Linked DNA regions of Homo sapiens. The protein of the gene in region 1 purifies or fractionates together with the protein of each later gene. This does not show direct contact. Each region holds a gene or a part of one and is shown on either strand. Other genes may lie near its edges.

What was found. Proteins that work in one complex are often made in the same cells at the same time.
Region 2: the proteins of CDCP1 (region 1) and CLSTN1 purify together in Homo sapiens (affinity purification with mass spectrometry; one large-scale study listed by BioGRID and IntAct). This does not show direct contact.

Annotation. Positions count from the first base shown.
Region 1 is NC_000003.12:45,136,379-45,139,878, forward strand, and holds part of CDCP1 (CUB domain-containing protein 1 isoform 1 precursor), read right to left. Parts: intron 1-3,500. UniProt on the Homo sapiens protein: May be involved in cell adhesion and cell matrix association. May play a role in the regulation of anchorage versus migration or proliferation versus differentiation via its phosphorylation.
Region 2 is NC_000001.11:9,813,966-9,817,465, forward strand, and holds part of CLSTN1 (calsyntenin-1 isoform 1 precursor), read right to left. Parts: intron 1-3,500. UniProt on the Homo sapiens protein: Postsynaptic adhesion molecule that binds to presynaptic neurexins to mediate both excitatory and inhibitory synapse formation.

The DNA of each region.
Region 1 (3,500 bases):
TAAGGAAGAAGGAGGAGGATGGGAACAAAACTAGCTAGAAAATTTGGGGCGATGAAGCATTAATCCTCATTCCACTATATTCTGCTTTGCTCTTATAGGTGATCTCCAGTTATCCATCAAATAATAAATCAAATTTTCTAGGCCTGCTCAGTGCTAGGCCCTAAAAGTAGATAGGGAAAAAACAAAACAAAACAAATCACAGCAAGTTGCTCTTCATGAAAAGCTGCTCCAAGTCGAGAAGTCAGTTTTTTGGTCATCAACTCCTCAGTTCCTAGCAACTTAACACTTCTACTGCATCCCTTCTACACAACCACATTCTTGCAGGAAGTAACTTTAGGCTTTTTTGAAGACGGGGTCTATACTTGAGAAATTTGTTTTAATGCAACAAAAATAGTAAGGGCTATATTCATACCTGGCTTTAAATTGTTTTTATTTTTAAAATATCTTAGAGGCAAAACTACGGTGACAGAAGGCAAATCAGTGGTTGCCAGGGGCTAAGAGGTATGGATTTATTACAAAGGAATCTGGAGGAACTTCGCAGGGTGATGGAAATGTTATACCATGCATTTGACAGGACCCATTGAATTATACAATTGATACTGGTGAATTTGATGGTATGTACATTATATCTCAGTAGAGCTGAAAAATATTTTTACATTTAGATAAATAATATATGAAGCACACAATAAAGTAAAACAAAATGTAAAAAGTCGTTCTCCTACCCTTGAATCTGGTTCTGTTCCCATAGGCAACCACTATTACCAGTATTTGTGCACTATTCCAGAAGTAATCTATGAATATGCAAGTGTGTATTTATATACCATCCCTATTTCATTTTATTTTGCCAAAAGGTTGCATGCCATATGTACTGTTCTGATCCTTGTGTTTTTCTCTCCACATTCTAATGATGAGCATTTGGGTTGTTTCCAGTCTCTAGCAACTAGGGCAAGGAGGGGAAGATGCCAGTGGGACATACCTTCCCACCAGTATTCCAGGTTCCTGCCTGGAACTTGAGTTGTATTTCCCATAGAGGCAGAGGCCAGTGAGGCTAGAAGAAGTTATGTTGAGGGTTTGGCACCATTCGGGTTGTGGTGGGCTTCTGCAAGATGATCCAAGCATTGTTTACAACTTGAAAAATGTCTGCTAGGCTGGGTGCAGTGGTTCATACCTGTAATCCCAGCACTTTGGGAGGCCAAGGTGGGCAGATCACCTGAGATCAGGAGTTCAAGACCAGCCTGGCCAACATGGTGAAACCCCATCTCTATTAAAAATACAAAAAAAAAAAAAAAAAATTAGCCAGGCATGGTGGCACGTGCCTGTAATCCCAGGTACATGGGAGGCTGAGGTAGCAGAATTGCCGGAACCTGGGAGGCAGAGGCTGCAGTGAGTCGAGATCATGCCACTGCACTCCAGCCTGGGCAACAGAAAAAAAAAAAAAAAGTCTTCTATGTTCCGTGAAGATAAGGACTTAGCTCTGACAGATGTAGCCCAAGGCTGAAGTACCTGATAAGACTGTCAGAAACTTCCAAGCCAGTTCCAGAGTAATCCTCCATCTCTCAGCAGGGATTAAAGGCCAGGGCCCTGCCAGGTTTCCCTCCATGGAGATCTAGCTCTAGTTTCACAGACTGGCAAACTGCAGCCCAGTCTTGGCTAATAACACCCGGTCATGAAGATAGCTGCAATCCCCAGGAGACCACTGGGGTGTTCTCATTCCCATCTCAAATGTAACTGAGCATGACAATTAAGTTGTTATAAAACTGGTCCAGTCAGTTCCTTGGCTACCAGGAAATTCATGTGTGTGCAGGCACTTGCTCACAGAACATTTTTTAAAAACTTGTTCTAGTGTCTTTTAGAATAACTTCATACGGCTTTTCACTGAGCAGCTTCACTTCTAGGAATTTCTTCCACAGATATCCTTACACGTCCCCAAAGTCGACTGCACTGGGACAGTAACCAAAGCACAATGTGTAGGTAACAAAAGTCAAAAATAATCTTACTGTCTCCCACTAGAGACCTGGTTATACAGACTATGATAGCCTATAATTTTGGCCCAGGTTGTCTGCCTATTGAATATCTAAATGTTCTTCTTGGACCTGACTCAAATAATCAAAGTGTCTTAGTTCGTTTTGTGTTGCTATAAAGGAATACCTAAAGCTGGCTAATTGATAAAGAAAAGAGGTTTGGCTGGTTGCGGTGGCTCATTCCTTTAATCCCGGCACTTTGGGAGGCTGAGGCCGAGGCGGGTGGATCACCTGAGGTCAAGAGTTCGAGACCAGCCTGGCCGACATGGTGAAACCTCGTCTCTACTAAAAATACAAAAATTAGCCGGAGGTGGTGGCAGGCGCCTGTAATCCCAACTACTCAGGAGGCTGAGGCAAGAGAACTGCTTCCCAGGAGGTGGAGGTTGCAGTGAGCTGAGATTGTGCCATTGTACTCTAGCCTGGGCAACAGAGCGAAAACTCCATCTCAAAGAAAAAAAAGAAGAAAGAAAAGAAAAAGAAAGACCGAAAAGAAAAGAGGTTTATTTAGCTCATGATTCTGCTGGCTAAAAGGTTCAAGATTGAGCATCTGGTGAGGGCCTCAGGCTGCTTCCACTCACGGCAGAGGGCAAAGGGGATCTGGTGTGTAGAGATCACATAGCAAGAGAAGAAGCAAGGGCAGGGGGTTCTTGCTGGGCTCTTTTTAACAACCAGCTCTCTAGGGAACTAACAGAGTTAAGAACTCACTCACTCCTGAGGGATCCACCCCATGACCCAACACTTCCCATTAGGCCCCACCTCCAGCACTGGGGATCAAATTTCAACATGAGATTTGGAGGAAACAATCATCCAAACTACAGCACAAAGTCATGAAATTCTCACTAACTGAGGAATTTGTTCTAGGCCAGACTAGTGCACACATCATTTCATTCAGACCTCCAGCCAGCCTCAGGGTGCTGCTGTCCCTACAGGTTAAGCAACTTGCCCAGCTCACCTCGTTAATAAGTGGTGGAGTCAGGATTTGAACCAAGCTTTGACCAACTCCAGAGCTTGTCTGAATGAGGCTGTCTCCAAAAAGCTGGAAAGGCAACTCTGAGTCCAGTGAGGTCTTTGGCTCCAGTCCTTCCATTTCTCTGCCCTCCTCCCTCCACCAACTTCCAGCTGGGAAGCTAAGCCCTTTGGGATGTGCAGTCTGAAGACACGGGCAATGTAGCAGTGAGCAAGAACTCAGAGGCAATAGTGACCGGGAGAGCCTGGTGTTTGTATCCTTGAGGGTGGCCCAGGATGCAACTCCAGCGAGACTTGTCAGCAGGGCAGTTGATGTGAAAACAGCCCATCAACACAGGCTGAACCCTCCTGACACAGTGTCCCTGGGCAGACTCCAGCAGAGCACAGAGTTCCAGTATGAGCAGCAGTGTGTAATAACTCATCTCATTATGTTGTTTGGTTCTTGGTGTGTACCTCTCCACTGTGGCTGGTGGCCACTCTGTAGGAGTTGACTGTCTACCTGTGTCCAAGAGA
Region 2 (3,500 bases), on another chromosome or scaffold:
GTGGCAGGCACCTGTAGTTCCAGCTACTCAGGAGGCTGAGGCAGGAGAATGGCATGAACCTGGGAGAAGGAGCTTGCAGTGAGCCAAGATCACGCCATTGCACACCAGCCTGGGTGACAGAGCGAGACACTGTCTCAAAAAAAAAAAGAAAGAAAAATGTTAGGCTGAGCATGGTGGCTCATGCTTGTAATCCTAGCACTTTGGGAGGCTGAGGCAGGGAGATTGCTTGAGTCCAGGAGTTTGAGACCAATCTGGGCAATATGGTAAAACCCCATCTCTACCAAAAAAAAAAAAAAAAAAGCCAGGCATGGTGGTGTGTGTCTGTAGTTCCAGCTATTCAGGGGGCTGAAATGGGCAGATCGCTTGAACCTTGGGAGGACGGAGATTGCAGTGAGCTGAGATCGTGCCACTGCACTCCAGCTTGAATAAAAATTTCTTTGCTATACTTTAAGTATGTAAACAAAGAAGATATTCATTTTTACTGAGTTTTAAAATTCACTTTGAATCTAAAGACATATTTCTAAGCATTTTATATGTTTGAAGATTGGGTAATTGAGGAATAGTTAAATAAAATCAAAGGACTAGAAAAAATAATTTACTTTTTAACAAAGCACATTTTTAGCCAACTAGCATAACAAAAATGTAATGAATGAAGAAATGTCAGCTGGACATGGTGGCTCACGCCTATAATCGCAGCACTTTGGAGGGCCAAAAAGGGCAGAATGCTTGAGCCCAAAAGTTCGAGACCAGCCTGGGCAACATAGGAAGATCCCGTCTCTACAAAAATTTTAAAATTAGCCAGGCATGGCGGTGTGCACACCTACTCAGGAGGCTGAGGTGGAAGGATAGTTTAAGCCAAGGGAGGTTGAGGCTGCAGTGAGCTGTGATTGTGCCACTGCACTCCAGCCTGGGCAACAGAGCAAGATCCTGTCTCAAAAAAAAAAAAAGAAAAATGTCACTTTTCTAAACTAGTTGTAGTTTGAAAATTCTCGTGTTTTTTCCAGTCCCTTTCATTAAGTTAAGCCCTGCTCCTGGAACCAGGATATTGACTCTGCATGTGTCTGGGTGGCTGTCCCCCAAACACTGCATGTGTAGCCCTGTGCTAGGCTCAGATTTCCTAAGAAATCTACAGAAATCAAGGCCTAGGCCTCAGTGCTCTCAGTCTCTCTTAATGTGTGAGGTGGTAAAAACAACAGACTGTAGGCTTGGATGCCTGCAAAAATACAAAGGCGTGATAAAATTTAGTCCTCAGGAAAGCTGACCAAAGGCTCAATGTTTTTAAGAAAAGGGTTGCTCTGTGAGCTACCAAGAGCCCCACAGCAGCAGAGTTCAAACAGAGGCTGAATGATCAACACACAAGAACATATGAGGAAATGTCTGTTTTACAGGGAAGGCTATTTAAAGTATAGAGGAAAGAACTTTCAAAGTTCCTTTCAACTCAAAGTCTAAAGTCCAGAGTAGAAATTATATGAGAGACAATGGCAAAGGAAGGAATTGGTTGGATGAAATGCCGGTTTGCACCTAGACTAGGAAAAATTCAACTTAAAATTCTAACAAACTAGAAAACTGTGAAATGTGTATTTGATTCGAAAAATGCTCCTGTGAGTGACTATGGAGGTCAAGTGGATACAGGATGGTGCAGCCACTTTGTACAACCAACTGGTAGTTCCTCAAAATGTTAAAAACACAGGCCGGGCATAGTGCTCACGCCTGTAATCCCGGCACTTTGGAAGGCCAAAGCAGCTGGATCACTTGAGGTCAGGAGTTGGAGACCAGCCTGGCCAACATGGTGAAACCCCGTCTCTACTAAAAATACAAAAATCAGCCGGGCATGGTGGCAGGCACCTGTAATCCCAGCTACTCGGGAGGCTGAGGCAGGAGAATCTCTTGAACCCAGGAGGCGGAGGCTGCAGTGAGCCAAGATAACATCACTGCACTCCAGCCTGGGTGACAGAGTGAGACTCTACCTCAAAAAAAAATTTTTTTAATTTAAAAAGTTAAATCTAAGAGTTACCCTAAGACCCAACAATTCCACTTGGGTATACACCCAAGAGAAATGAAAACATATGTCCACACAAATTCCTGTACAAAAATGTTCATAGTAATATTTTCCAAAATTAGCTACAAAGTGGAAATAACCCAAATGTCCATCAGTGAATAAATGGATAAACAGAATGTGTTATATCCCTACAAGGATATATTATTTACCTATGAAAAGAAACGAAGTCCTGATACATGCTACAACATGGATGAACCTTGAAGACATCATATTAAGCAAAAGAAGCTAGTCACAAAAGGCCACGTATGATTCCATTGATGTGAAATGTCCAAAATAAGCAAATCCATAGACAGAAAATAGACTAGGGGTTGCCAAGGGAGGAGGAGAGGAGGAGGGAGATGGAGAATGATTGCTAACAGATATGGGATTTCTTTTGGGAGTGATGAAAGTGTTCTGAAATTAGATAGTGGTGATGGTTGTGCAACTTTGTAAATATACTAAAATCACTGAATTGTATGCCTTAAAAGGTTGAATTTTATGGTATGTGAACTATACCTCAATAAAGCTGCTTTAAAAAAAAAAAAAAAAAGGAGTGGATGCAGAAAAAGGTGGGTTTTTTTGTTTGTTTGTTTGAGACAAAGTCTTGCTCTGTCACCCAGGCTGGAGTGCAGTGGCATGACAAAAGTGGTCTTTTTTTTTGAGATGGAGTTTTGCTCTTGTTGCCCAGGCTGGAGTGCAATGGTGTGATCTCGACTCACTGCAACCTCCGCCCCCTGGGTTCAAGCAATTCTCCTGCCTCAGCCTCCCAAGTAGCTGGGATTACAGGCATGTGCCACCACGCCCAGCTAATTTTGTATTTTTTAGTAGAGATGGGGTTTCTCCACATTGGTCAGGCTGGTCTCTTTCTCCCAACCTCAGATGATCCGCCCACCTCGGCCTCCCGAAGTGCTAGGATTACAGACGTGAGCCACCGCACCCAGCCGGTGGTCCTCCTTTGTCCTACACAATGACTCAGAGAAAGTACAGATCAAGGTAGGCTTGAAAAGTAGCAGACTCAACAGAAGTTCTTGTCATGGGAGAATCAGACAGAACGAAACAGATGGCTGAAAGATGATTCTTCGGCCAGGTGCGGTAGCTCATACCTATAATCTCGGCTCTTTGAGAGGATGAGGTGGGAGGACTGATTGAGTCCAGGAGTTCGAGACCAGCCTGAGCAACACAGTGAGACGCCACTTCTATTAATTCTTTTTAAGATAATGATTCATGTCTGACCAAAGAAGTAAAAAAGAAAAAACATGACTCTTCTTTTGATATGCTATCACATACTTCTTATTGGGGTTCCGGAATGGGAAGGAAGCTTTCAGATTTTTTTCTTTTTTTGAGACGGAGTTTTGCTCTTGTTGCCCAGGCTGGAGTGCAATGGCACCATCTCGGCTCACCGCAACCTCCACCTCCTGGGTTCAAGCAATTCTCCTGCCTCAGCCTCCCGAGTAGCTGGGAT